4 separate regions of the Homo sapiens genome follow, and all the other regions are linked to region 4. Evidence: fine-mapped expression QTL. A gene starts in region 4. Each other region holds a variant in brackets. All regions are shown on one strand. Distances are from middle to middle. Region 1 overlaps TNFRSF1B (TNF receptor superfamily member 1B). Region 2 overlaps TNFRSF1B (TNF receptor superfamily member 1B). Region 3 overlaps TNFRSF8 (TNF receptor superfamily member 8). Region 4 holds the start of TNFRSF1B (TNF receptor superfamily member 1B).

Evidence for each region.
Region 1: its variant is fine-mapped to the expression of TNFRSF1B in whole blood (TOPMed, PIP above 0.99).
Region 2: its variant is fine-mapped to the expression of TNFRSF1B in whole blood (INTERVAL, PIP 0.94).
Region 3: its variant is fine-mapped to the expression of TNFRSF1B in whole blood (TOPMed, PIP above 0.99).

What each region holds. Positions count from the first base shown.
Region 1 is chr1:12,205,850-12,213,870 of GRCh38, forward strand. TNFRSF1B (TNF receptor superfamily member 1B) reads left to right here. Exons shown (of 10, transcript NM_001066.3): 10 at 891-3,371. The coding sequence ends at 1,171. Among named protein-coding and RNA genes, the nearest start is that of MIR4632, 18 kb to the left of the region's middle. RefSeq lists an enhancer at 1,141-1,641 and a silencer at 4,630-4,709. The variant C/T (reference allele first, on the strand shown) is at 2,093.
Region 2 is chr1:12,192,982-12,197,981 of GRCh38, forward strand. It overlaps TNFRSF1B (TNF receptor superfamily member 1B), which reads left to right. Exons shown (of 10, transcript NM_001066.3): 6 at 1-117; 7 at 974-1,051; 8 at 1,603-1,637. Among named protein-coding and RNA genes, the nearest start is that of MIR4632, 3.8 kb to the left of the region's middle. The variant A/C (reference allele first, on the strand shown) is at 2,322.
Region 3 is chr1:12,139,905-12,147,933 of GRCh38, forward strand. TNFRSF8 (TNF receptor superfamily member 8) reads left to right here. Exons shown (of 15, transcript NM_001243.5): 15 at 2,383-4,303. The coding sequence ends at 2,627. Among named protein-coding and RNA genes, the nearest start is that of MIR7846, 23 kb to the right of the region's middle. RefSeq lists enhancers at 5,295-5,384, 5,445-5,504, 6,585-6,664. The variant C/T (reference allele first, on the strand shown) is at 3,911.
Region 4 is chr1:12,161,323-12,169,196 of GRCh38, forward strand. It overlaps TNFRSF1B (TNF receptor superfamily member 1B), which reads left to right and starts at 5,669. Exons shown (of 10, transcript NM_001066.3): 1 at 5,669-5,847. The coding sequence starts at 5,770. It overlaps MIR7846 (microRNA 7846), which reads left to right and starts at 5,621; the gene lies at 5,621-5,716. RefSeq lists enhancers at 1-11, 12-521, 522-1,031, 540-679, 6,095-6,736 and 3 more and silencers at 5,505-5,814, 5,825-6,054.

The DNA.
Region 1 (8,021 bases), 45 kb after region 4:
ACTCCTGACCTCAGGCGATCCACCTGCCTTGGCCTCCCAAAGTGCTGGGATTACAGGCGTGAGCCACCCTGCCTGGTCCAGAAGTCATCTTTTGAAGGGAGACAAGGCAGGAATGATGGATGGGTGTGTGATATGAGAGAAAGATGGGTCCGAGGCTCTGGGCCCAAGCAGCTGGGTGGATGGCAGCAATGGGAACTGTGATGAGCAGGAGAGGTTTTGGATGCGAGATGGGAGTAGAATCAAGAGTTAAGTTGGAGGCTGAGCACGGTGGCTCACACCTGTAATCTCAGCGCTTTGCGAGGCTGAGGTAGGCAGATTCTTTGAGGTCAGGTGTTCGAGACCAACCCAGGCAACCTGGCGAAACCCTGTCTCTACAAAAAATTAGCAGGGTGCGGTGGCCTGTAGTCCCAGCTATTCAGGAGGCTGATGTGGGAGGATCACTTGAGGCCGGGAGGCAGAGGTCACAGTGAGTTGAGGGAGTGACACAGCACTCTTTTGAGACCCTGTCTCAAAAAAAAAAAAAAAAAAGACAGAAGAGACAGGGTCTCACTATGTTGCCCAGTCTGGTCTTGAACTCCTGGGCTCAAGCGATCCTACAAACTTGGCCTCCCAAGTAGACATCTGTTTTATATAATTGGCTCCTCCCATCTCTGGGGTGATTGGGGCTGGGTAGGTAGTGATGCTATTCTTATTCGGCAGAGGGGAAAATGAGGCACATGCAGGTTAAGTGACTTGCTCAAGGTCACACAGCAGAGCTGGGCTAGAATCTTGGTCTCGGCTCCTGGCCCAGTGCTCTTTCCCATGTGTCTGAATCTGCATCTTGGGCAGGGGTCCCTGGGCCCCACTCCTGGACCCCCGGACTGACCCCCACCCCATCTTGTGCTTAGCAGATTCTTCCCCTGGTGGCCATGGGACCCAGGTCAATGTCACCTGCATCGTGAACGTCTGTAGCAGCTCTGACCACAGCTCACAGTGCTCCTCCCAAGCCAGCTCCACAATGGGAGACACAGATTCCAGCCCCTCGGAGTCCCCGAAGGACGAGCAGGTCCCCTTCTCCAAGGAGGAATGTGCCTTTCGGTCACAGCTGGAGACGCCAGAGACCCTGCTGGGGAGCACCGAAGAGAAGCCCCTGCCCCTTGGAGTGCCTGATGCTGGGATGAAGCCCAGTTAACCAGGCCGGTGTGGGCTGTGTCGTAGCCAAGGTGGGCTGAGCCCTGGCAGGATGACCCTGCGAAGGGGCCCTGGTCCTTCCAGGCCCCCACCACTAGGACTCTGAGGCTCTTTCTGGGCCAAGTTCCTCTAGTGCCCTCCACAGCCGCAGCCTCCCTCTGACCTGCAGGCCAAGAGCAGAGGCAGCGAGTTGTGGAAAGCCTCTGCTGCCATGGCGTGTCCCTCTCGGAAGGCTGGCTGGGCATGGACGTTCGGGGCATGCTGGGGCAAGTCCCTGACTCTCTGTGACCTGCCCCGCCCAGCTGCACCTGCCAGCCTGGCTTCTGGAGCCCTTGGGTTTTTTGTTTGTTTGTTTGTTTGTTTGTTTGTTTCTCCCCCTGGGCTCTGCCCCAGCTCTGGCTTCCAGAAAACCCCAGCATCCTTTTCTGCAGAGGGGCTTTCTGGAGAGGAGGGATGCTGCCTGAGTCACCCATGAAGACAGGACAGTGCTTCAGCCTGAGGCTGAGACTGCGGGATGGTCCTGGGGCTCTGTGCAGGGAGGAGGTGGCAGCCCTGTAGGGAACGGGGTCCTTCAAGTTAGCTCAGGAGGCTTGGAAAGCATCACCTCAGGCCAGGTGCAGTGGCTCACGCCTATGATCCCAGCACTTTGGGAGGCTGAGGCGGGTGGATCACCTGAGGTTAGGAGTTCGAGACCAGCCTGGCCAACATGGTAAAACCCCATCTCTACTAAAAATACAGAAATTAGCCGGGCGTGGTGGCGGGCACCTATAGTCCCAGCTACTCAGAAGCCTGAGGCTGGGAAATCGTTTGAACCCGGGAAGCGGAGGTTGCAGGGAGCCGAGATCACGCCACTGCACTCCAGCCTGGGCGACAGAGCGAGAGTCTGTCTCAAAAGAAAAAAAAAAGCACCGCCTCCAAATGC[C/T]AACTTGTCCTTTTGTACCATGGTGTGAAAGTCAGATGCCCAGAGGGCCCAGGCAGGCCACCATATTCAGTGCTGTGGCCTGGGCAAGATAACGCACTTCTAACTAGAAATCTGCCAATTTTTTAAAAAAGTAAGTACCACTCAGGCCAACAAGCCAACGACAAAGCCAAACTCTGCCAGCCACATCCAACCCCCCACCTGCCATTTGCACCCTCCGCCTTCACTCCGGTGTGCCTGCAGCCCCGCGCCTCCTTCCTTGCTGTCCTAGGCCACACCATCTCCTTTCAGGGAATTTCAGGAACTAGAGATGACTGAGTCCTCGTAGCCATCTCTCTACTCCTACCTCAGCCTAGACCCTCCTCCTCCCCCAGAGGGGTGGGTTCCTCTTCCCCACTCCCCACCTTCAATTCCTGGGCCCCAAACGGGCTGCCCTGCCACTTTGGTACATGGCCAGTGTGATCCCAAGTGCCAGTCTTGTGTCTGCGTCTGTGTTGCGTGTCGTGGGTGTGTGTAGCCAAGGTCGGTAAGTTGAATGGCCTGCCTTGAAGCCACTGAAGCTGGGATTCCTCCCCATTAGAGTCAGCCTTCCCCCTCCCAGGGCCAGGGCCCTGCAGAGGGGAAACCAGTGTAGCCTTGCCCGGATTCTGGGAGGAAGCAGGTTGAGGGGCTCCTGGAAAGGCTCAGTCTCAGGAGCATGGGGATAAAGGAGAAGGCATGAAATTGTCTAGCAGAGCAGGGGCAGGGTGATAAATTGTTGATAAATTCCACTGGACTTGAGCTTGGCAGCTGAACTATTGGAGGGTGGGAGAGCCCAGCCATTACCATGGAGACAAGAAGGGTTTTCCACCCTGGAATCAAGATGTCAGACTGGCTGGCTGCAGTGACGTGCACCTGTACTCAGGAGGCTGAGGGGAGGATCACTGGAGCCCAGGAGTTTGAGGCTGCAGCGAGCTATGATCGCGCCACTACACTCCAGCCTGAGCAACAGAGTGAGACCCTGTCTCTTAAAGAAAAAAAAAGTCAGACTGCTGGGACTGGCCAGGTTTCTGCCCACATTGGACCCACATGAGGACATGATGGAGCGCACCTGCCCCCTGGTGGACAGTCCTGGGAGAACCTCAGGCTTCCTTGGCATCACAGGGCAGAGCCGGGAAGCGATGAATTTGGAGACTCTGTGGGGCCTTGGTTCCCTTGTGTGTGTGTGTTGATCCCAAGACAATGAAAGTTTGCACTGTATGCTGGACGGCATTCCTGCTTATCAATAAACCTGTTTGTTTTACACGTCGACCCCTGGCTCTGCCTGGGGTCTGGGCTTGGGTTTGTCCATGCTCCTACTTGTCTGCCACCCCTGTGTAAGGGGAGATGGCGTCACGGTCCCTGGAGTCTGGCTGGCCCCTGTTGTGACTGGACCACAGAGGGACCCCTGTTACAGCCGCCCCCTCAAGCCTGTGAACCATAAGAGAACTTCCTGCTCGGGACCACACAGCTGGCTGGGTTCCAAGTGTGCCCTGGTCTCATGCCTTCATCCTCCAGGTCTCCTGGGCCTGCTCTCAGGACCGGGATGGGGTCTCTGCAGATCCCTAGCAGCCTAGGCAGCCAGGCTCTGCCCTCCTGGGGACCCCACTCGGGGAGAGTGGTTGCCCCTGGGATACTCAGACCAGTACAGGGTTTTGGGGGCCCAGAGGACATCCCTGGGCCCAGGTAGGAGGTTAGAACAGGGTTCTGGAGATGACCTCTGACCTCCTCCTGAGGGATGAGCAGCAGTTTTCCAGAACAAAGGATTGCAGGGAACTGTCAGGCAAAAGGAGTTCTGAGTTTAAAGGCCTTAGCCTGGCCAGCATGGTGAAACCCCATCTCTACCAAAAATACAAAAAATTAGCTGGGCATGACGGTATGCACCTATAATCCCAGCTAGTCAGGAGGCCGAGGCACGAGAATTGCTTGAATCAAGGCAACAGAGGTTGCAGTGAGCTGAGATCGGGCCACTGCACTCCAGCCTGGGTGACAGAGTAAGAGTCTGTCTCCAAATAAAATAAATAAATAAAATCAATTAATTAGAAGAAAGCCTTGGAGGGGAGAGAGACCTTGGCCTGTGTATTGGTTCCACTGACCCCCTGGGTCACCATCGTCACTCCAGCTCCTGTGACTCCCTCAGTGGGACCATTTTCATTCTTGGTGATTATAGGATCTGTGATTGATGGAACGCCCCGCCTCCTGGCTTCTCGCCCTCCTCTCCTCCATGGTCCTGTCCTCCAGCCTGTCTCAGTCACTCAACCCTTGACCAAGGCTCCCCACACTTATTCCATAAAGAGCCAGGGAGCAAATTTATTTTAATTTTTTGAGACAAGGTCTCACTCTGTTACCCAAGCTGAAATGTGATCGTGGCTCACTGCAGCCCTGACCTCCAGTCGCAGCCTCTTGAGCAGCTAGGACTACAGGCATGGACCACTATGCCGAGCTAAATTTTAAATTTTTTTATTTTTATTTTTTGGGTTTCCCTGTGTTGCCCAGGCTGGTCTCGAACTCCTGGGCTCAAGTGATCCACCGGCCTGGGCCTCCTGAACTGCTGGGATTACAGGTGTGAGCCATTGCGCCTGACCAGAATCAATATTTTACACTTGGCAGGCCTTACAGTTTCTGCAACAACCACTCACCTGTGCTGTTGAAGTGTGAAAACAGCTGTGCACAGGACATGAAAGAATGGGCAGGAGGCGGATGTGGCCTTCGGGGTGTGCCCATGCCAGTGCCTTAGAGCCTGGCATTACTGATAACTGCACGCTAATCTCAATTTCAAGCATCCCACTTCCCCCCACCCCTACTTCCTCCTGTCTTTCTCCCTCAGTGGCACCTGCAGCTGTTGGTTACGTTTTCTCCCTTGTACGCACCCACGGCACTTTCTCCTGGTTTGTTGTTCTCTCTCTGGTTGAACCCAGCTCTCTGCCTGTGCCACACCTGCACGTCTGCACCTGGCTGGGGCAGGATGATGGCCTTCCACCATGCTGGCTGGTCGCGTTTTCATTTCATGATCATTAGACTTGGCTGGGCACAGTGGCTTATGCCTGTAATCCCAGCACTTTGGGAGGCTGAGGTGGGCAGACTGCTTGAGCTCAGGAGTTCAAGACCAGCCTGGGGCAACATGGTGAAACCTCATCTCCACAGAAAAATACAGAAACTAGCTGGGTGCGGTGGCACGTACCTGGAATCCCAGCTACCCATGAGGTTGAAGTGGGAGGATTGCTTGAGCCCAGGAGGCGGAGGTTGTTGTGAGCTGAGATCTTGCCACTGCACTCCAGCCTGGGGGATGGAAAAAAAGAATAAATTCTATGGGGGTCCTTGGTGCTGCCCAGCAGTGACAACAGGTCCCCTCCCCGATATATTAGTTCCTGTTGTTGCTATAACAAACCACACAAACTCAGTGGCTTAAAACAATACAATTTCATTCTCCTACAGCTCTGGGAGCCAGAAGTATAAAAGCAAGGTGTTGCCAGGCCTGCTAGGCTCAAATGGGGAATTTGTTCTTGGAGGCTTTAGGGGAGAATCTGATTCCTTGCCTTCAGCTTCCAGCGGTACCTGCATTCCTTGACTTATGGCCCCTTCGTCCATCTTCAGAGATAGCAACGGAATCTCTTCAGAAGTCAGATCTCCCTTTGCCTCCCAAGTGTAGGGACACCTGTAATTACAACGGACCACCCAGAAAATCCAGGACACTCTCCTCGTCTTAGCATCTTGGCCAGGTTTCAGGAATTCAGACATCAATGTCTTTGCAGGGGCAAAGACAACCATTGGTTATGCAGCCTACCAGCTCCTATTCACTCAGTCTCCCACTCTTTCTATTTATCTTTTAATTTTATTTATTTATTTATTTATTTTTTGAGATGGAGTCTCGCTCTGTCACCCAGGCTGGAGTGCAGTGGTGCGATCTCGGCTCACTGCAAGCTCTGCCTCCCGGGTTCAAGCGATTCTCCTGCCTCAGCCTCCCGAGTAGCTGGGATTATAGGTGACACCACCACGCCCAGCTAATTTTTGTATTTTTGGTAGAGAAGGGGTTTCGCCATGTTGGCCAGGCTGGTCTTAAACTCCTGACAGGTGATGCACCCACCTCAGCCTCCCAGAGTGTTGGGATTACAGGTGTGAGCCACTGCGCCTGGCCTATTTTATCTTTTAAATAAAAGGATTAATTGAGGTTTTTGTTTGAGACTGAGTACCACTCTGTGACCCAGGCTGGAGGGCAGTAGCGCAATCACAGCTCAATGCAGCCTGAAACTCCTGGGCTCAAGTGATCCTCCCACCTTGGCTTCCCAAAGTGCTGGGATTATAGGGATGAGCCACCACACCTTACCCCACTCTTCTAGATGGACTATTTCATGTGTTCTCCTTTATCCCCAAGCCTCTGTCCTCACCCCACCCTTACCTTCAGTTGGTTACCTTGCTGTCTATTTCACCGAGAAAATAAAACACAAGAGAATGCTTCATGCTTGCCCCACCACATCTGCCCTCTCACCCTGCATCTGTGCCCACAACCCTGGCCTTTGCCGTGACTGGGTCTGAGGACAGCGCCTCCCCTGCACGGGATCTTAGCATCTCTCCTGGCTCAAGGACATTGCTTCAGTGAGTCTCCTGTCTCTTTCCTTCAGCATCAATTTCTCTGGCTCCTGGATCTTTCCTGTTTGCATATAGACACCCTGAGGTTCCTCCCATTTGTGAAACAACCTCACACCCATTAGGACAACTACTATCAAAAACCCAGAAATTAGTAAGTGTTGGTGAAAATGTGGAGAGATGGAAAACCTTGTGCGTCGCTGAGGAGAGTGCACAGTGGTCCAACTGCTATGGGATACAGTGTGACAGCGACTCAAAACATGGAACATAGAATTACCATCTGATCCAGCAACTCCGCTTCTGGGTGTGTACCCTAAAGAACTGAAAACAGAGTCTCAAACAGATATTTGTACAGCAGTGCTCCCTGTTCATAATAGCCAAAAGGTGGAAACAACCTAGGTGTCCAAAAGGTGGAATGGATAAACAAAATGTGATCTACAGGCTGGGTGCAGTGGCTCACACCTGTAATCCCAGCACTTTGCAGGGCTGAGGCAGGTGGATCACCTGAGGTCAGGAGTTCGAGACCAACCTGGCCAACATGGTGAAACCCCATCTCTACTAAAAATACAAAAATGAGCCTGGCGTGGTGACACACGCCTGTAGTCCCAGCTACTCAGGAGGCTGAGACAGGAGAATCACTTGAACCCAGGAGGCGGAGGTTGCAGTGAGCCGAGGTCGCGCCACTGCACTCCAGCCTGGGTGACAGAGTGAGACTTCATCTCAAAAAAAAAAAAAAAAAAAAAGTGGTGTACAATGGAATATTCAACCTTAAAAAGGAAGGAAATTCTGACACGTGCTGCAACACGGATGCCTTGAGGACAAGGATCCCTTGTCCCTTATACTAAGTGAAATAAGCCAGTCACAAAAGGACAAATTCTGTATGTTTCCCGTACATGAGGTACCTGGAGTAGTAGGATTCATAGAGATGGAAAGTAGGGTGTTGGTTGCCAGAAGCTGGGAGAAGAGGGAATGGGGAGTCAGTGTTTAATGGGTGCAGAGTTTCAGTTTTTTGAAATGAAGAGTTCTAGGCCAGGCATGATGGCTCACGCCTGTAATCCCAGAACTTTGGGAAGCCGAGGTGGGTGGATCGCTTGAGTTCAGAAGTTCGAGACCATCCTGGACAACATAGCAAGACTCCGTCTCTATGAAAATGAGCTGGGCATGGTGGCATGCGCCTGTGGTCCCAGCTACTCAGGAGGCTAAGGCGGGAAGATTGTGCGAGCCCAGGAAGTCGAGGCTGCAGGGAGCCATGACCTGTGCCACTGTACTCCAGCCTGGGTGACAGGGCGAGACCCTAAAAAAAAAAAAAAAAAAAAAAGTTCTGCAGATG
Region 2 (5,000 bases), 30 kb after region 4:
CCCAACACACGCAGCCAACTCCAGAACCCAGCACTGCTCCAAGCACCTCCTTCCTGCTCCCAATGGGCCCCAGCCCCCCAGCTGAAGGGAGCACTGGCGACTTCGCTCTTCCAGTTGGTAAGTCGCAAGAAGTCTCATTCATTCACTCCTTCTGTCTGCCTGTCTTTCTGTCTCTCTTTCTTCCTCTCCCATGGTTTTACTGAGAGCCCACGGGGGGCTGGACCCTGTGCCCTGTCCTGGGATACAGGTGGCAGTGAGACTGCTTTCTCCCCACACCTGGTGCTATCATTCAAAATCCCTAAGTGCGTGGGCTGGATGCAGTGGCTCAAGCCTGTAATCCCAGTGCTTTGGGAGGCCAAGGAGGCTGGAGGATTGCTTGAGGCTAAGAGTTTGAGGTCAGTCTGGGTAACACAGCGAGACTCCATCTCTATAAAAAAATTAAAAAATTATTTGGGTGGGATGGTGCCTATTGTCCCAGCTACTCAGGAGGCTGAGGTGGGAGGATCACATGAGCCCAGGAATTTGAGGCTGCATTGAGCTCTGATCGTGCCACTGCACTCCAGCCTGGGCAATGAGTGAGGTCCTATCTCAAAAACAAAACAAAACCAAACAAAACCCCTGGATAGGGGAGAGGTGGGGTCAGCAATTCACCTGAATATGCAGATGGTCTCCTTGCTGCTGTTTCTGATGAGCCCATTAGGCTAAGAAGACAGCGGGCTGGGCCAGGTCACCTCCAGGGGCTTCCATTCTGGGGTAGAACTGCATCAGGCCAGAGGTCTCAAACTAGTGGCCCTTAGGCTGAATGAGGCACACAGACATGATTGCTTTGTAATTGGATTTGAGAATCTCCGGCCTAGACTCGCCCCTCATTTGCAATGACCCGAAGCACCTTGGGTCCCTGGCTTGCCTGGCTGGCCCCTGGTACATTTGAGTTTGTTTTCTGTAGCTGTCTGAGCTTCTCTTTTCTTTCTAGGACTGATTGTGGGTGTGACAGCCTTGGGTCTACTAATAATAGGAGTGGTGAACTGTGTCATCATGACCCAGGTGAAAAGTAAGAGTCCATCCTTCCTTCCTTCATCCACTTGTTCAGGAAGCTTTTGTGGGGTGCCTCCTGTGAGTCCAGCACTGGGCACAGCCTTAGGGGTCAGACAGAGCTGGATATGGGGGTCCTTGTTCTGTAGGAGCTTAAGGCCTGGGGTGAAGGTACCTCTGCTAACTTAATTACTAAAAGGCAAGAGGTGATCAGGGTTTTCTAAAGGGTAGGAGGAGTTCAGGATTCCTATCCAGGAAGCCTGGGGGATTCGGGCTTCCTGCAGCAGGTGGTCTCTGAGCTGGGTAAGATCTTGATGGGTGGAGTCTGTGCAGGGAAGGACACGCATCCTCAGTGGAGGCGCGGATGGTATAGATGGGGGACTGGAGAATGGTTGGGATGGTGGCAGGTGGAGTTGGGTGGGGGCTTCTGTGGACCTTGTCTGGTAGGCGATTGGTCCCCACAGGGCTGGGCCTCTCTGCTGGTTCTATGGGGCCCCATACTGCCCTCCTACTTAGGACAGATGTGCCTGAGGAAGTCAATCTCTTACTTGTCCCCTCTCCTCTTTATAGAGAAGCCCTTGTGCCTGCAGAGAGAAGCCAAGGTGGTGAGTGTCTCCACTGCCCTCTCCCCCTCTTCCCCTGGTCTCCTTCCCGGCGTGCTGGGCTGTCACAGAGGAAGCAGTGAATTCTGTCATTGGTCTGTCCAGTGTCAGGAGGTGTGCAGAGCCCTGGGAGGTGGAGGAAAGGCCGGGGAGTCAGGCAGCCCTCCATGGGCTAAGAGAGGCTGTGAGTGTGAAATGCTCCGGCAGAGAGCAGATGCCTTCGTGGCGTTCGTGGCAGGCACGTGGTCGTGGACCCACAGCGCAACCTTGGGCAGATGTGAAATTGCTCTATGGCTACTTCCTTACCATGAGATGGGGGTTGTGTCTGCTCGATCCAGCCTGCAGGGTGGTGCCATTCGGTCAGCTGACAATGATGTTTCTCCTTGCCTCCATTGTGTTTACAGAGCACTTTCTCAGAGAGCAGTGGTTTTCAAACTGAATTCTGGGATAGCCCAGTGTCCCACAGAGGGCCCTTGGGCGTGGGGGAAGTGGTCATCTCTCAGGTTTGAGGTAGAGGCTGTGGGGCTGGGCCCTGGGTCCTCCCAAAGCAACTCACCTTTGATCTGTTTTATAAAGTAGGGCCTGCGAAGGCTTTTTGTTAGAGACAGACCAACAGTGTGTCATATCATAGTATTTCATTCATTCTCCATCAGGAAGGCATTTGGCTGCAAGTAACCCCAAACCTAC[A/C]GGTGACTTTAGAAAAAATGGCTTTATTTTTCTTGCATTGTAAGAAGTCAAGGGGTTGGTGTCTGCTGGAATGGCCTCCACTATCCCCTTGCATGGTGCCAGCAGGACCCCAGGCTCTGTCATCTTTAGTGTGTTGACTTTTGTTCTCTTGTTTGTGGCCTCATGTCATAAGATGGTAATCATCACTTCATATGTCACCTCTAAGTTTGAGGTGGGAAGAAGGGGCAGGTGGCCAGGTCAGCCATGGTGCCCTTATCAGTAAATCGGATGCCTTCCCAGAAGCCCTGGGTAGACTTCTTTCATCTCACTGACCAGACAGTGTCACATGACCACCCCTAGCTGCGAGGGAAGCTGGGAAAGAGGGTGTTTTGCTTTTCCAGCCTCTATGGAGGAGGAGGACAAGGGAGGGGGGTTGGAAGTGGGTATGGGGTGAGCCAGAACATACGTCTGTCACAGCCTTGCACCTGGTAGGCAGGGCAGGTTTTTTACCCAATTTGACAGATGAGAAAACAGAGTCTGATGAGTTTTCTCGACCTCAGGGGCAGGTAGAGAAAGAACTTCTCAACCTCATGGATATTTGAGACAACATCTTACTTAAGGGAGGCCAAGGTGGGAGGATTGCTTGAGTCTAGGAGTTCAAGACCAGCCTGGGAAACACAGTGAGACCCTATCCCTAAACAAAATTAAATAAAATAAATATTTTTAAAAAGGATCTTGGCTGGGCACGGTGGCTCACTCCTGTAATCCCAGCACTTTGGAAGGCCGAGGTAGATGGATCACTTGAGGTCAGGAGTTCAAGACTAGTCTGGCCATCATGGTAAAACCCCATCTCTACTAAAAACAGAAAAATTAGCCAGGCGTGGTGGCACGTGCCTGTAGTCTCAGCTACTCGGGAGGCTGAGGCAGGAGAGTCGCTTGAACCCGGGCAGTGGAGGTTGCAATGAGCTGAGATCACACCACTGCTCTCCAGCCTGGGCAATAGAGCAAGACTCCATCTCAAAAGAAAAAATAAAATAAAATAAATAAATAAAATATCTTACTTAGTTGTGGGGGCTGTCCCGTGCTATTCAGCAGCATCTTTGGTCTTTATTTACTTACATGCCAGCCTCATTCCCACTCCAGTGGTGACAATCAAAAATTCTCCAGACATCACCAAGTGTCCCCTGGAGGGCAAAATCACCCCTAGTGGAGAACCACTGCTCGAGGGAACAGCTCAGCCCTGGGCAGCCCAATACCCGAAGCTTACACCAGGTGTTTGGAATCAGATAGATTGATTTCATCCCCTGATTTTGGTGACAAGAAAAGAGATGCAGGGAGGAAAACTGAGTTGCTCAAGGTCGCACCGCAGTGTGTCTCTGGACTCCCATCTCAGTGCTCTTTGCCCTGCCCTACAGTATTTCAGTGGGGAGGAAATTTTCTCATTCCCCGGCGAGCGAGTTTCACTGCTCCCTTTCTCCAGCTTCAATTCAGTGACACTGACGGTTGCCGCCTGGTGGCGTGCGTAGAGCAGGTGTCTCCCCCAAGCTCTTCCGCAGCAGCCCAGCTGTCACCTTCCCTTTCCCCACCAAGCGTTTCCCAATCCTCTGTGCACTGAAGATGTCCTGGGTGTGGCCTAGCAGCCTCTGCTTCCCTTTTCCATTTTTTTTTTCTTTCTTTCTTTTTTTTTTTTTGAGACAGCTATGTCGCCCAGGCTGCAGTGCAGTGGCGCCCTCTTGGCTCACTGCAGCCTCCGCCTCCCGGGTTCGAGTGGTCATCCCACCTCAGCCTCCCAAGTAGATGGGACTATGGGCATGCGCCACCATGCCTGGCTAATTTTTATATTTTTAGTAGAGACGGGGTTTTGCCATGTTGGCCAGGCTGGTCTCAAACCCCTGACCTCAAGTGATCTGCCCACCTCGGTCTCCCAAAGTACTGGGATGAGAGGCATAAGCCACCACGCCTGGCCCCTTTCCTTTCACTGTTGCTCTCAGTGTTCACTGAATGTGAGTGACTCAAGTATCTGTTGAGTGCCCCAGTGGTGTGTCTAGTGCAGAAAAAAACCCCCAAACCCTGATTTGTGGTGTTTGCTAATTTCTGTGGTATAAACACTCACACTGTAGCCAGTTTCCAACTCCCAAGACCTTCCTGAATATGGAGTTGGGAGGAAATCTGCACAGGCCTGAGCTTATCCCAGCACAGCCCTGGCTGAGCCCTGCCAGGCTCTTTGTGACTGAGTCCCCACGCATCCCTGTGGGGCAGGGAGCATCATCACCCCCATTTTACAGAGGAGGAAACTGAGACTCTGGGAGGTTCCATTTTTCCTGTAGGATTAGATCATTAGGTGAGTGGCATAGCCCAGGTTTGAATCAGGTTTATGCCTGTGTCCCACGCTACTCCTCAACCAGCAGCTACTCCTGATAAGAGGCCAGTGGAGAGTCCTCTTGAGCTGGGCTGCTGGGCTTAGAGTGTGGACTCAGCACCCACCTGCTCCTCCTGCCACAGAAAGAACGTCCAGGGCATGGGAGACAGTGGCGTTCCTTTGTTTAGAAAACACCAACATGTGGCCGGGCGCCATGGCTCACGCCTGTAATCCCAGCACTTTGGGAGGCCGAGGGGGGCGGATCACGAGGTCAGGAGATCGAGACCATCCTGGCTAACACAGTGAAACCCCATCTCTACTAAAAATAAAAAAAATTAGCC
Region 3 (8,029 bases), 21 kb before region 4:
GGGATTATAGGCATGAGCCACCATGCCCAGCCTGGGCAGTCTTTTGTAACAAACTGAAGCTTTTGAAATGGTAGCTTTTAGTAAGTTTTATTTGAAAAGTATGTATTTTGGGAAATACCATCAAAGGCTTCTTCAGAATTCCTAAGAAGTCCTAACTGGAACTTCTGAGTCCACACTGAGTACAGTGCCTGGAATCCCAGGGGTGGGGTTCAGAGGGTGTTTGATGGGGAGGAGAAGGAAGTACCAGGCTCCCAGGCAGCTGGCTCAGGTGTGGGCTGCCCTCCCCTGGCATGGCCTGCAGGCCTTGCTGGTGAGTGGATCGGGGGCCACCTCCGCCATGGTGGAAAGGGAAGGCCTTGGAGGTTCTCTTGGGCACCCAAGACACAGGCAACCCCCTTGTCCTCCTAATGCCAGCCCAGGGTAGCGTTCCCCCTTCCCATCCAGTTCCCAAGAGGGGTCACACTGGGGTCTGTACATCGTCCCTCTTCCCCTGGGAACCAGGCAAGGGAAGAACCCCTTTCCCCCCAACTTCCTCACCTGCCCTCCCCACATAGCCAAGATGAATTCCCTGGACTCTGGAGCTCTGGGGAGGGGGCAGGAAATCCATGCAGCCCTTGGAAGCCACCCCCACAGCCTGGGGAGTAGGCAGCCTGTGATGGGGGCAGAGCCAGAGCGGGGCAGACCCCTCATGGCCGGCTCTGAAGTTTCCAGACCCCTCTTTCACTTCCGAGCTCAGTGGGAGCTGCTTCCTCACCCAGAGCAGCCAATTCCACCGCTTTGAATCCAGTTAATTCCAGATTTCCTGGGGACTCCTGCCCATTTCCCTGAGGAATGTGAGGGGACCAGCCTGTCCCCAGCTGTGGCTCCTTCTCCCTAATCCAGCACCCCCACCCTCACTTCCCTCCCACCTGACCCCACCCGCCTCTCATCTTCTCTGCCCATCCCCCTCTGGGCCTTCTCTCCCCTCCTGGGGTCTCCTCTCTCACCACCCCCGGCCCCCATCTTTTGCCCAGCCCTCTATAGGGCTCCTAGGGCTGGGAGCCCACAAGCCTGATGGAGGTGTGGGGAGTGCTGAGGCCCTGCTCTGTTTTGGGGTCTGTGGGGGCGCCCAGCCCATAGCCTGTCCCGCACTCTGGGCCTTCTCCTCTTGCTGCCGTTTGGCGCACTTCTCTCTTTCCTGGGGGTGTTCAAAACCAGAATAGAAGAACCAGCGTCATGCAATAGGGTTGAGGGTGTGGGGGACTCGAGAACCTTTTTGGGGTTCCTGAATCCGAGGGGTATAACTGCATTACCCAGAAAGGCAGGGGTCCCTGCACCCCCACCCCACCCCAGCTCTCAAGTTCCCTCTTGAGCTTCCCCATTCTGGCCTCCAGAGTCCAGCGCAGAACAGCTGGGAGCCAGCCCACCCTGAGCCAGACACCATCAGCTGGGCGGAGGCCAGGCTTCCCCACTCCCCAGCTCCTCGGGCCACTGAACCTGAGCCCCCATGTCCCCTCTATCAGAAGGCCACACCAGAAGCCCCCACATCAGACTGTGGCGAGGACCGGCCCTCCGTCCAAGCTCCCACCATGTGCTCACAGCACAGCCATGCACGCTGCAGGCAGGAGACCGGCTGTGAGCAGTAAGCCCCGAAATTCACGGCCTGAGCCAGGCTGTCTCAATCATGGGCTGCCGAGACCTATTGAGGGGGCCGGGTTTTCTGCAGGATGTGACAGGCTGGCTGAGTTTGCCCGGACCGAGGGGACTCCCAGGACACGGGACTTGCAGTAGTAGAACCAGGAATGTTCCCGGGCAAGCTGGACAAGTTGGTCACCCCGGGTTTTGGCTGCAGGCACACAGATAGGAGCAGAAAGGGCCACCAGGCGGAGTGGGTGGTTTTTTTTTGGGGGATTTCTCCTAACTACGTGGCGACCTTGGGCAGGTCATTTAACCTCTCCAGGCTTCAGATTCTTACCTGTAAATGGGAATCTTGATGGGGTCCGCCTTGCAGGAGGGCTGGGGACCCAGGAGTGGGGGTGTGGAAACTGCTCAGCTCTGCTGTTTCTGCTCGTGCTCTGGTTACCCACGGCTTTGCCTGTTTTTGTCCACAGTTTGCTTTCTGTCCCACCCTGTCCTCTTCTTCCCTACCCATCCGCAGAGATGTGCTGAGAAAATCCTAAGTACAAGTGGGCTGGTTCTTAACTCCTCAAGGCCCAGCTCCTAGCTGTTCTATTTCCTCTGAGCCCCCAGGATGCCTGTAAGGTACATCAGAGAGGCTGTGCCATCAGCCTGAAGCCACCCGGCAGGTGTACCAGCACTGGGCCTCGGCCCTTCTCTGCCTCTTTGCTCCCATCCTGGCTGGTGCTCTGGCCTCCCTCGCTCACCCATCCTTTTGCCTTGCAGAGAAAATCTACATCATGAAGGCTGACACCGTGATCGTGGGGACCGTGAAGGCTGAGCTGCCGGAGGGCCGGGGCCTGGCGGGGCCAGCAGAGCCCGAGTTGGAGGAGGAGCTGGAGGCGGACCATACCCCCCACTACCCCGAGCAGGAGACAGAACCGCCTCTGGGCAGCTGCAGCGATGTCATGCTCTCAGTGGAAGAGGAAGGGAAAGAAGACCCCTTGCCCACAGCTGCCTCTGGAAAGTGAGGCCTGGGCTGGGCTGGGGCTAGGAGGGCAGCAGGGTGGCCTCTGGGAGGCCAGGATGGCACTGTTGGCACCGAGGTTGGGGGCAGAGGCCCATCTGGCCTGAACTGAGGCTCCAGCATCTAGTGGTGGACCGGCCGGTCACTGCAGGGGTCTGGTGGTCTCTGCTTGCATCCCCAACTTAGCTGTCCCCTGACCCAGAGCCTAGGGGATCCGGGGCTTGTACAGAAGAGACAGTCCAAGGGGACTGGATCCCAGCAGTGATGTTGGTTGAGGCAGCAAACAGATGGCAGGATGGGCACTGCCGAGAACAGCATTGGTCCCAGAGCCCTGGGCATCAGACCTTAACCACCAGGCCCACAGCCCAGCGAGGGAGAGGTCGTGAGGCCAGCTCCCGGGGCCCCTGTAACCCTACTCTCCTCTCTCCCTGGACCTCAGAGGTGACACCCATTGGGCCCTTCCGGCATGCCCCCAGTTACTGTAAATGTGGCCCCCAGTGGGCATGGAGCCAGTGCCTGTGGTTGTTTCTCCAGAGTCAAAAGGGAAGTCGAGGGATGGGGCGTCGTCAGCTGGCACTGTCTCTGCTGCAGCGGCCACACTGTACTCTGCACTGGTGTGAGGGCCCCTGCCTGGACTGTGGGACCCTCCTGGTGCTGCCCACCTTCCCTGTCCTGTAGCCCCCTCGGTGGGCCCAGGGCCTAGGGCCCAGGATCAAGTCACTCATCTCAGAATGTCCCCACCAATCCCCGCCACAGCAGGCGCCTCGGGTCCCAGATGTCTGCAGCCCTCAGCAGCTGCAGACCGCCCCTCACCAACCCAGAGAACCTGCTTTACTTTGCCCAGGGACTTCCTCCCCATGTGAACATGGGGAACTTCGGGCCCTGCCTGGAGTCCTTGACCGCTCTCTGTGGGCCCCACCCACTCTGTCCTGGGAAATGAAGAAGCATCTTCCTTAGGTCTGCCCTGCTTGCAAATCCACTAGCACCGACCCCACCACCTGGTTCCGGCTCTGCACGCTTTGGGGTGTGGATGTCGAGAGGCACCACGGCCTCACCCAGGCATCTGCTTTACTCTGGACCATAGGAAACAAGACCGTTTGGAGGTTTCATCAGGATTTTGGGTTTTTCACATTTCACGCTAAGGAGTAGTGGCCCTGACTTCCGGTCGGCTGGCCAGCTGACTCCCTAGGGCCTTCAGACGTGTATGCAAATGAGTGATGGATAAGGATGAGTCTTGGAGTTGCGGGCAGCCTGGAGACTCGTGGACTTACCGCCTGGAGGCAGGCC[C/T]GGGAAGGCTGCTGTTTACTCATCGGGCAGCCACGTGCTCTCTGGAGGAAGTGATAGTTTCTGAAACCGCTCAGATGTTTTGGGGAAAGTTGGAGAAGCCGTGGCCTTGCGAGAGGTGGTTACACCAGAACCTGGACATTGGCCAGAAGAAGCTTAAGTGGGCAGACACTGTTTGCCCAGTGTTTGTGCAAGGATGGAGTGGGTGTCTCTGCATCACCCACAGCCGCAGCTGTAAGGCACGCTGGAAGGCACACGCCTGCCAGGCAGGGCAGTCTGGCGCCCATGATGGGAGGGATTGACATGTTTCAACAAAATAATGCACTTCCTTACCTAGTGGCCCTTCACACAACTTTTGAATCTCTAAAAATCCATAAAATCCTTAAAGAACTGTAAGGCTGAGGACATGATCATCGAAATTGAGAGTATGTTATTAATAGAACCCCTGAGCAGAAGTGGCTTTGGGAGTCTCCCAGCAGGGCAGGAATTCCCACTGAACCCCCAGGCACTAAGGTGGCCAGTCTCTGGTAGATTGGATACTTCTGGGGCCGGGAGCCCACTTCCTGCTGGGGCAGTCCTTCTTGTTGCTGGAAGATTTTCCTTATCACTCGAGGCAAATTCTTTCTCCATGTAATTGCCGCTCCCTGGTCCAAAGGCTGCCCTTTGAGGACACTCAAAGCCACTGTCGGCCAGTTGCGGTGCCTCACCCCTGTAATCCCAGCACACTGGGAGGCCGAGGCGAGTGGATCACCTGAGGTCAGGAGTTCAAGACTAGCCTGGCCAACATGGTAAAACCCCGTCTCTGCTAAAAATATAAAAATTAGTCGGGTGTGGTGGCGGGCACCTGTAATCCCAGCTACTCAGGAGGCTGAGGCAGGAGAATCGCTTGAACCTGGGAGGTGGAGGTTGCAGCAGTGAGCCGAGATCGTGCCACTGCACTCCAGCCTGGGTGACAAGAATGAGACTCCGTCTCAAAAAAAAAAAAAAAAAAATGCCACTGTTGTCACAAGGCTCCCTTTAGGTATTCGAAGAAAGGTTTCTGGGCCTCCCCATGGCCTTCCTCCCTCTGGGCTGGGCCGGGCAGCCCCATAGCTTTGGAGAAGGGATTCTCCAAGGAACAGCGTGAGTGCCCAAGCCCTGGGAGGCAGGGGGAGGACCACAGGTATCTGGGATCCCTGGGAGGCAGGGTGAGGACCACAGGTATCTGGGAGTGTTGGGCTTCAGTGTCTGAGCTGGGAGGAGCCCAGCCTGCCTCCCTGGGCACAGCTTTGTGGCACTTTAGGGCCAGCCTCCACCCCAGGCAGCCAGCCTGAGGCCTCCTCTGACTGTCTCCTGTGCGAGGTGGAGAACACCCACAGCCACAGACAGACCCTGTCCACCCCATCCCCAAGACTCCAGCCCACACCCACACATCAGCCCAGCCATTGAACCAGCCATGCACTCAGTCCAGGAGCCAGGGTGGATTTCCCCATCCTGCCCAGCGATGAGCGGACCCCTTCTATTCTCTGGCTGTGCTCACGTCCAGGTTGGCAGATGGACAGAGCTCCCTGCTACTCAAGGTAGCAATTCTCAGGCTGTGACGACACCCCCACACACCTCTTCCTAAACATTTGCGATCAGAGAGGGACAGCAAGTGGTAAGTATCAGATGGAAGCTGTTGCCTTCAAAGAAAAGCCATTGTTTCCCAAGGCACTTTTGTAGGTGGTAAAAACCATTCTACAGTTCACAGAATCTCCACGGCTCGGGTCAGTCCCTAAAACGGAACGAGGGGACCTCCCTAGAGCGTCTCTCGCTCCATCACGACCTCACCCTCCAACAGTGAGGTGTAAAAGACCCAAGGCTGGGTCTTGGTCATCTTTGTCCCATGGTCACTGGGCACTGATTGGTTGGGCTAAGTAGAAATGAAAACCTGTGTGGGGATGAGAGGCGGCTCTCCAGCCACAGTTCCTCGGGTGCCTTCTCTCTTCCCCCCACTTCCTCGATCCTCTGCAGTGGGGGGGCAAGTGTGGGGTGGGGGTTGCTTGGGCCAGAATATGTGGGGACATCAGATTCACAGCCACGGCCCAAGAGAAAAGCTTAGTCAAGGCGAGACTGTTCAGCTTCAAGGGGGGCTCCTTGGGCTGAAGGAGAAGCTGCTGAGGACACCTCAGGCCCCTGCACCCTCCACCAGGCCCCTCTGCCAGGCACCTCCTCCTAAGCCAGCACCCCATGCTGGCCAAACACCCTGGAACCCTTGCCCCTGGCTGACCCAGGGGAGCAGGTGTTCAATGTTGGGGCCATGGGTGTGAGCCAGGCACAGGGCAGAGAGGCTTGCCTGCCATTCTCTGCAGCTCAGACACAACAGCAGCGTGCGGATGGTGATGGCGCTGCGGGGTCACACACAGGCTCGAATCCCAGCTCTGCCATTTATCAGTTGCATGAGCTTGGCTATGTTCCATGATCTCTTTCAGACTCAGTTTTCTTGTCTGTGAAATGGGGGTGTCAGTCTCTACCTGACGGGGTTGTGGGGCTTCCCTGACATGCCACTCGGTGTGTGGCTTGTGCTGAGTGGCAGGTTCTGTCCTTATTCCAGCCTGGTGGCCGCTTGTCAAGAGCGAGCCCTTCCTATGTCTGCAGAATTCAGCCCATCAAGGTTAATCAGAGCTTTCAGGCCAGCCTGGGAACCTAGCCACCCTTGGGGCCAACTTGCTGTGGGAAGCCCCGCAGTGGGCAGGCCTCTTCTTGTTCTGTGGGCTACCCCAAGAACCCTTCAGATCACAGTCATAGGACTGGCTCATTATTCGACGTCTGTAACTCTGGGCATGTCGGCGAAGTGCTGCGGGTCCCTCCGGAGGGACATCTCACTCGTGGTTCTAGCACATTCCAGATTGCACCACATTACTGTTCGAGGGCTTTCCTCAATTAAAGGGTCTAGCTGCTGAGGACTAGTGGGGCACAGACTTGCTCTCGTGGGTCCTGTGTCTGGTGGACGGGACAGACGGTGGCGTCATCAAATCAGTACACAAGGTCATTCCAGAGTCAGATCACGCTGTGAACCACAAGGAGTCTGAGCCAGGTACTGTGGCAGAGTGGGAGGGGAGGGCCACCACTAGCTAGGTGGTCAGGGCAAGCCTCTTTGAGAAGGTGCCCTTTGAACTTGGCCTGAGTGATGTCACAAGCCAGCGAGGTCTGGAAGGCAGGGAGCTGAAGTGGGCACACTCCTGCCTCGAGTTTCAGGAAGAACACAGTGGTGGAAGAGGCACGGTGGGCGAGGGAAAAAAGGAGGTGAGGGGGGAAGGCCTGGGGAGGAGGGCCTGGTGGGCCATTGTGATTAGGCACCTAGATTTTATCATAAAAGTACTGGTCTATGTTTCTTTCTGTTTTCTTCCTAGTAGAACAATAAACATCCTGGTATTATTTCAGCAATCAGTGAGAAAGGCCAAACCAGGGGCGGCAAAGGTTGTTTTAACCTATTTTGGAGGGAAGTTGGGGAAACAGGCAGCAGCTGCTGGCAGCCAGGAAGCAGTTAGATGGGTTTTCTCAGAAAGAACTAAGACAGCATTCCTGGTGATGATTGTAGCTATGGGTAGGGTTAGGAGTCTGCCGGTCTAGCTTCCCCCTTTCTCTGGGTATCTTCCAGAGAGTAAAAACCAAACTGAAAAACCCTGGGAAGCCTGGAGGCCTTTGTTTGTGTTTTGGTGTGGTGATTGTTTTCCCGGTCATGAGGCAGAGGGATCATTTCAGTATCACAGGGTCAGCGGTGGCCTGTGCTTTTTACCCTTTAGCCCTCATGGAGGCAGTGGCCATTTCATGACGGTGGCATGGAGCTGTGGCTTCCGGCTCGACAAGCTCCCAGCTGCTTGGTCCCAAGCAAAGCCCTTATGTGCGTTCAATGTGGGTTTTCTGGTCTGCAAAATGGACCTAATGGGGCCAGATGCGGTGGCTCACGCCTGCAATCCCAGCACTTTGGGAGGCCGAGGTGAGTGGGTCACTTGAGGTCAGGAGTTCGAGACCAGCCCGGGCAACATGGCAAAACCCCGTCTCGACTAAAAATACAAAAAGTAGCCAGGCATGGTGGCATATGCCTGTGATCCCAGCTACTTGGGAGGCTAAGGTGGGAGAATTGCTTGAACCTGGGAGGCG
Region 4 (7,874 bases):
CAGGTGTTTGTGCTGAGGCCAACCCCTTCCCGCCCAGGGCACACCGGGCTGCTCCATCCTGCATCCTTTCCTGCAGAGCCCAGGCTCAGAGTCCTTCTCAACACAGAGCCCTAGGCAGCCATCACCAAGTGGAGCTGCATATGGGGGGAAACCAGCCTGCTTCCCCTGAAATCCAACTCCTCATGTCACACATGAGGATGCTGAAGCCCAGAGAGGGGTAGGCACTAGCCCAAGGTCACACAGGAAGGGGGCTAGAATGGGGATTCCTGAGACTTAGCTAGTCCCACTTGCTGGGTTTAGAAACCAAGGGTCTTCTCCAGAAGGTCTGGGACTGATTCTGGCGTTGAGTCCTGGGAAGAGGCCACTCAGAACAGGGAGGTTTTAGTGAAGCAAGGGGAGAAGGAGGCCTGGAGGCTCTCTTGGCTTCCTTCCCCAAATTGCCTGTGGTCCTCTTTGAGTACTGGGAGAGAGGGGGTGCTGCACCCCCAGGCCCTCCTCTTCTTTGGAAGGAGATGGGGACAAGAGCTGGTGTTTCTCGGTGCCCCCAGCCCACAGCATGGTATGGCCAGCTCAGCCCAAGATGTGGCCCCAGGGAAGGGAGGAGGACCGGTAGGAGGGCCAGATGAAGCAGGCAGTTGTAGAGCTGTGGCTAACACCAAATGCTGCTTCCTGTTCGTGATTTTAGGACATGAGTCATCAAGGGGCTGGCCCGGCACATTCAGGGCGCTGAGATAAGCAGGACTGAGGGACAAGAAAAGGTTACTTGCCCTGGCTGTGGGCCAGCCTTAAGCAGGGAAGGAGTAGGGTTCCCGCTGTCCAAGCAACCCTGTAAGATAGATTCCCACTGGGACCCTGAGGCCAGGTCAGAAGGAGTTGGCTTTGTGGCTGGCTCTGAAAGCTCACTCCAAAAAGAATATTGCATGGAGACCTCCCCATGGTGGAAAGAGCCCCTCCCAGCACAACCACAGCTCAGCCTTCCAAACTGCCCTCAGCCACACACAGCACCTGCTGCACCTCAACCCTCTGTACGGTTTCTCAGCAGGTGCCCCTCAGTCACTGAGGAGTCCATTAAAAAGCCAGATATTAGGCCCTCAACAGACATGGGCGTGGGGCCCAGGACTCTGCATGTTTCACAAGCCTTCCAGATGATTCTTATGCTGGTTGAAGCTGGAAAGCCACTCCTCCAAAAGATCCACTAGAATGCCCGGTACACAGTAGGTGTTCAATAACTGTCAGTGGACAGACCGGCTGTCCTCGCACACGTGGCCTGCCCGTGGCCCTGCCTTCTTCCACCCTCGCTTGCAGGAGTGCAGTCATCCACCTACTGGGGTGGGAGATGTCAGGGGACCTCTGAGGGCTGTAGACTGAGCTGGGAAGTGAGGAGAGGCTCCAGGGAGTGTCTGGCCAAGAGCTCAGATTCTGCACATGCAGCCCCTGAGTTGAGGACCTGAGGGCCACAGTTCCATCTCTGCTTGAAGACTGTGTTGTCAACAAGGAGCAAATGGGGACTTTTCTGCGCTGTGGGGCTGGGAGTCTACCAGATGCATGGCTTGGGAGTCTGGGTTGGGTATACAGGGCCTAGGAGTGATTGGGCTGGACTGGGTTCCTGAGCCTTGACCCGGACATCCATGTACCCATTCATTCATTCATTCATTCATTCTCTCAAGTCTTCATCCCTTCATCGCCTCCTGCGTACCCTTCATCCTGTATTTGGTCCTTATTCACTTCAACTTTATCAAGCCCCCCGTTAGGTATCTCCTGGGCCAGAACATACAGGAGATGCACAAGAAGGGACTCAATCAAGGGAAATAGAGGGAACCAAGAGCAAGTCCCCCTACCCTCGGGTATCACACAGTTCAGCAGTGTGAGAGCTCCATGCTGAGAAGAGCCCCTTGGCTATGGAGAGGCCACCAAACCAGGTTTGAACCCGCTGTACCCCGTATTAGCTGGATAAGCATACCATAAAGCTTGCCCCCCACCTGGTGCAAGATAAAGTGTGTAAGTCATCTTTCCATAACCGCTAGTATCACAATTACTAAGAGAGGCGAGGGCCGTGTAAGCAACTAATACCGGAGTAAGTGTTATGCTAATAGTCTGTAGACGTACCATGTTATCCTGCCCAGCTTGCTGGGGTGTGGTCAAGGGTGGTTTCACAGGAGAGCACGAGTGGAGCTGTGACTGGAAGGACAAGTAGGTGATCACCAAACAAACAAAGAGGAAAACACACCTCAGGCAGAGGAACCTGCATGGACAAAAGCATGGAGGTGGGAACTCAGGGTTGCTCCGAATGCCCAGGGAGTTGGCCTGTAGAGCTGGGGTTCGTGGTGGGGCTCTGCCTGGTGGGCCAGCTGGGCCAGGACATGAAGGCCTCCAGTGTCTTGTGGAGGAGGCTGAAATCAGTTCTAAAGGCCATGGAGAGCCATGGGCTAGGTTGCTTCTCAACCTTGGCGTTCTGGACGTTTTGGGCTGGATAATTCTCTGTGGATGAGGCTGTCCTGAGCGTTGTGGGATGTTTGGCAGAATCCTGGCCTCTACCTGTGAGATGCCAGCAGCACCTCTCCCTGCCCCCTGCAGCTGCGACCACCCAAAATGTCTCCAGACATTGCCAAATGTGCTGGGGAGGGAGAGGGGGTAAAATGACCTCTGGGTTGAGAAATCCTGGGCTAGGAGAGTGGCATGAGTGGCTAATGCTTTGCAGGGCTGGGCCTGACCACTCCACGGAAAGGCAGATTCGGGGACAGAGCCTGAAGGCCAGAGCCTCATCGGGAGGCCCAGAGCATCATGGGTGGGAGATAGAGCCAGGGCTGGGCTGTGGGGCAGAAGGAGAGAGTCCAGGCCCTCCACACTGCCTCTGCTGTCCCTGAGTTTTACCATATTCCCCAGTGGCAGGTACAATATGGTGAGTGTCAAGATCAATCCCCCCCCCACCCACACTGAAGAAAAAGTCCCGGACCACGTGTGCAGGTCATGTGGAGAGACAAACTGGTTCAGCCAGAACTGGCCATCGCCACCTCCAGCCTAAATAAGATGTGGGGTTGGAGAAGCCAAGAGAGAGGATTTTGGGGAAGGAGTCACCATTGGGCTGAGTGCCCCCTGCTGCCCTTTGGAGCGGAGAGGGCACTTCCTCTTACCTTGGGCCAAGCAGGAGGGGATACGAGGGAGCCATCTGGGGGCTTCATATCCCAGGAGTTTAAGGACCATAACACAGGTGGAAGATTCTTGTCTATTTTGTCCACTGCTGAGTCCCCAGCACTCCAGGGCTGGCACACAGTAGGTGCTTAATAAAGGAGCCTGTGGCTGGATGGACCTGAGCCAGCATTGCTGGAGTGAGCCAGGGTGCACGGAGAGTTAGCTGGGCTGCTATTGGTGCGCAGCAAAGGGCAGGCAACCATGGACCCCAGCGAGGAGGCCAGCCTGACCATCTCCATCCCAAAGTGCTTCCTAGTAGGTAAGGCGGCCTCAGCAGGAGAAGCCAGGAGGACACCATCCTGTAGGAGCTGAAGGGGAGGTGGTGAATTGTGGCCAGCAGGAGGTGCAGGCATTTCAGGTGCTGGGGAGCTGTGGCCAGTGGAGTCAGTAAGAAGGTCTCCAAGAAACCTGCACTAGAGCCCCAGAGAGAATGAGCTGGAAACTGTCCCCAAAGTCCCCAGTGCCAGATGGGTGACAACTTTGGCTGCCATGGAACACTGTGCCCTTTCCTTCCCAAACCCTCACCCCTGGGCCTGACCCTGGAGTCAAGAACTGCACTTGGCAGAGTTCAGAGAGAAGTCGCCTGCTCTCAAGCCTGGGTCGGCCTGGAGAAGGGGAGAAGCCCCATGTTGCATAGAGATTAAGCTTGAATTCGTTCCCAGGATGGGACCTAAGCCTGGGAGGATCCCCACCTTCAGGAGGTGATGGTGCCATTCACTGGGATAGGGAAACTGGCAGGAGGAGCCGGTTGTTGAGGGTTGGGGGTGCAGACAGTCTGTTGGTCCCATTGGTCTTGAGGTGTGTGGGGGACAACTAGAGAGAACTATTGTCCCCTGCTTCCACGAGGTGACATCTCCCTCCTGCCTTCAGCTCTATTTTAGGGATCAAGGAGTCCTTGGAGCTGCTCCTAGGCATTCTCATAAGGGCCAGAAGAGCTCTGCATGTCTGTCCAGCGGCTCTGCAGAGTTAAGGCTGTGGGTCATACCAGCCACACCCTCAGCGTGGTCCATGTCACAGAAACATGTGGAAACCAGGTGATTTCCCAGCCTCCTGGTCAGGAGGTGGGGTTTTCCATCCCCAGGGAGTCACTTCCCAGTTTCTCACTCAGCACTCAGCACCTAGAAGCACCATCCTTGCAGGCTCCACTGTGGGGCTGGTGGCCGGGAGCAAGGGTCTCTGTACCTCTTCAGGCAGCCTGCAGTGAGGAAACAGGGAACAGAATAGCCTCCTGCCACCCAGCCCACCCCAACCCTTAGAAATGCCCTATGTGCTGGGGGCTAGGACCCCCGTAATCCAGGGCTGGAGGAATGTGCTCTGGCCCCGCAGGGCTGGCCCTGTATTAGGGCTGGCACTCAAAGTGGGGATGGGGGGACAGATTGCAGCTGGAATGGGTGCTCGGTCATGATGTAAATCCTGGGGAAGCCAGCTCTCCTGGGCCTGGTCTCAGCAGCCCCTCAGGGCCCTGCAGCTTCCCTGGTGACATTCTCTCCCAGCCTCTGTTCATCTGCCCCCTGCCTGGGCAGGAGACTTGAGCAGGGAAGTGCAGAGTCTTCTCCCTGTGAGAAGGCTGGATGCGTGTTTAAGGATAAATGAACACGCGAAGAGTAGTAACAACAGCCAAGATTTATAAATGCCTATTGTTATATATGTAGATACTTACTTAAGTATATATAAAGTACAGACTGCATTATGTATATTACATATCTTTAAATTTTTAGAATAGTCCTATGAGGTCAGTTCAGAGATCCAGACCCAGGTGGTCTGGCTCTAGAGTCTAAACAGGCCGAGTGCAGTGGCTCACACCTATAATCCCAGCACCTTGGGAGGCCAGAGGCGGGAAGATCACTTGAGGGTGGGAAGAACACGTGAGCTCAGGAGTTCGAGACCAGCCTGGACAACATGGCGAAACCCCATCTCTATAAAGAAATCAGCCTAGCATGGTGGCCCGAGCCTGTAGTCCCAGCTACTCGGGAGGCTGAGGTGGGAGGATCGCTTGAGCGCAGGAGTTGGAGGCTGCAGTGAGCTATGGGTGAAAGAGTGAGACCTTGTCTCAAAAAAAATTAAAAAATAAGAATTAAATATATTTAAAATAGAGTCTAAATAAGTGAATGATCTAGAATTCTCTTGGTTCCCCTAAAGCAGCTGTCAGCTTTGGGGGATGTTTTTCCAAATTAGTGCCTCACCCTCACGGGACAGGGAAGCCTGTGGGAGCTGGGAGGGCAGGTGGAGGCCGGGCAGGTGGAGGCCGGGCAGGTGGAGATGGTGATTCGAAGAGGAGGGGACGATAGGAGGAGGTTGAGGGGTCACCCGAGTGCTGGGAGTGACGCTGGAGGTATCGGCCCAGCGATGCTGGAGTGGTCGGGTCGGAGGCCCAGCAGCGTCTGGGGAGGGGCGTGGGGGAGGCGTGTCCAAGGCCGGCTGGCCCCGCCCCGCCCCGCCGCCTGGCCTCTGGCCCGCTGGGGCGCGGGCTTTCGCTTTCAGTCGAGGGCTAGCGAGCGCAGCGGAGCCTGGAGAGAAGGCGCTGGGCTGCGAGGGCGCGAGGGCGCGAGGGCAGGGGGCAACCGGACCCCGCCCGCACCCATGGCGCCCGTCGCCGTCTGGGCCGCGCTGGCCGTCGGACTGGAGCTCTGGGCTGCGGCGCACGCCTTGCCCGCCCAGGTGGGTGACTCGCGCGGCCCACGGGGGACAGCCGCCCCGCATGTCCACCCGGCTGGTGCGCAGCCTTCGGGTGCCCGGGCCGCGCTCTCCCGGGGCGCTGTCACGGGCTGGGAGGCTGGGAGTCCCAGTCGCCGCCCCCCATCCGCATCAGACACGCGCGCCTCTGGGGACCCGCTGGGGACTCCGGGCCCGGCACACGTGCGCTCGGGGCACAACTCTGGCCCCCGAAGCCCCTCTTACCCGCGTCGTGACAGGGGCGCACCCTGGTTCCTCCGCGAGCGCAGGCCGGGGCATTTGGGGCTGAGCAGCGGGTCCTGGGCAGACCCCCGCTAGACCCGGGACCCCTCTTCCCTCACCCCGGCGACTGCCGCGACAGCCCTTCCCTCCCACGCGGTGGAGAAGGGGCTGTGCCGGGGCGCTGCCCCACTGCCCACGCCGGGCACCCTCTTCAAAAGACTTCCTTTTCCTCTGGGCGACGGTTTTCCGATTTCTTAGAAATACCAGGGTCCTGTGTCTGAAGAGCAGGACCAGGTGTGTGTCAGGTCCACTGAGGGCACAGCTGGAGGGCGAGCTGCCTGTCTGCTTCCTCCGATGCGTCCGGGGGCTACTGCAGAGTCTGTTTTCTGCGGCCTCTGGGGACAGGGCAAGCGAGGGAGGTCTGGGCTGGTAATCGAGCAAGGCAAATGAAGTCTCCGGGGGCCGCAGGAAAATGGAGACAGCAGAAACCCTAGGGCTCCTATTCAATATGAACGTCACTCCCACAGTAGCAACGGGCGTACAAGGGACTGTGCACCCTTTGCCTGTTTTTGACTGTCTCCTGGTCTGGTAACATAGGATAACCCCATTTTTGTTTTACTGTCTCCATGGTTTGGTAAGATAAGATAAACCATTTTTTAGAGAAGGAAAACTGAGGCTCAGAGAACTTGTATTTCATGGAAGGGTCTGGGGGGAACTCTTCCTCCAAAGGGGGCCTCTCCTGCCTTCGGCCCCTGTGCCCTGAGGCTGCGGGGAAGGTGGGCGTTCATCCTTCCTCAGAGCCGCCCCTGATGGACACATGGCCCATCTGCCCCCATCTGACATCTTGACCGAGGAGGAAGGTGGGAGGTGGCACTGGCTTCTGTGGTGACATAAGGTGACTTGTTGATCTGAGGCCAGAGAGTCCAGTTCTTGTGGGTGGAAGATGGGGGCTGTCAGACTAGAATTGACTCACCGACAGTGGGTGTCAGGAGTGGGTCCTGGAGAACTGCCCCAGAGTAAGTCCTGGGTGGCCTTTGGGTCAGGAGAGTCCCCACTCTAGGGCCGAGTGTGAATGGGGACGACCGTGGTCCCCAGCTTGACTTTGGGGTCATGCCATATACTCTGGCCTCAGAGGGGGTCTTCCTGCCGCTGAGCTTGGGCCTGCCTGGGTGAACTCTGGGGTCATGTGAGCCCCTGGATGGGAGAGGGGTGTCAGGCACAGGGCTCAGCAGGACACCAGGCTGCAGTCCTGGAGTAGCTGGAGGAGGTTCCCTCCCACTTCCTTCCCTTCCTGACCAGCTCCTGCGGCAGCTCATATTCCCTCCTCCCTCATCCCTGCTCCCCACGACCCCACCCGGACTATTGCCGCAGCCTTGTAGCTGGTCTCCCGGCCCTGCCCCCTCTCCCGCTGATCCTTGGCAGAGAGACCCTTCTCAAGCATGAGGCACCTCTCTGTTTGCCTGGGGAGCCTCCTGTGGCTCCCAATGGTTGAGGCAGAAACTCCCCTGGAGATCCCAGGCCAGAGTAAGGTACCTGAACTCTTCCTCGCGCCTCCCTGCACATGTGCTCCCCCGCCTCTGTAGAACTGATGATGGTCATCGTGTGTGTCATTGTGCAAAAAGCATTGTCCGTGCCATCCCCTCTCCAAGGGACACTTCTTACCCCTATCCTTCAAGGCCTTCTGCAAATGCCATTCTCTCCAGGAAAGCCTTTCCGCATTCTCAGTTGGATTTGATCTTCTCTTCGAACTCCCAGGCCCTTTTGTTCCCTTTGAGGACAGATTGCATTCT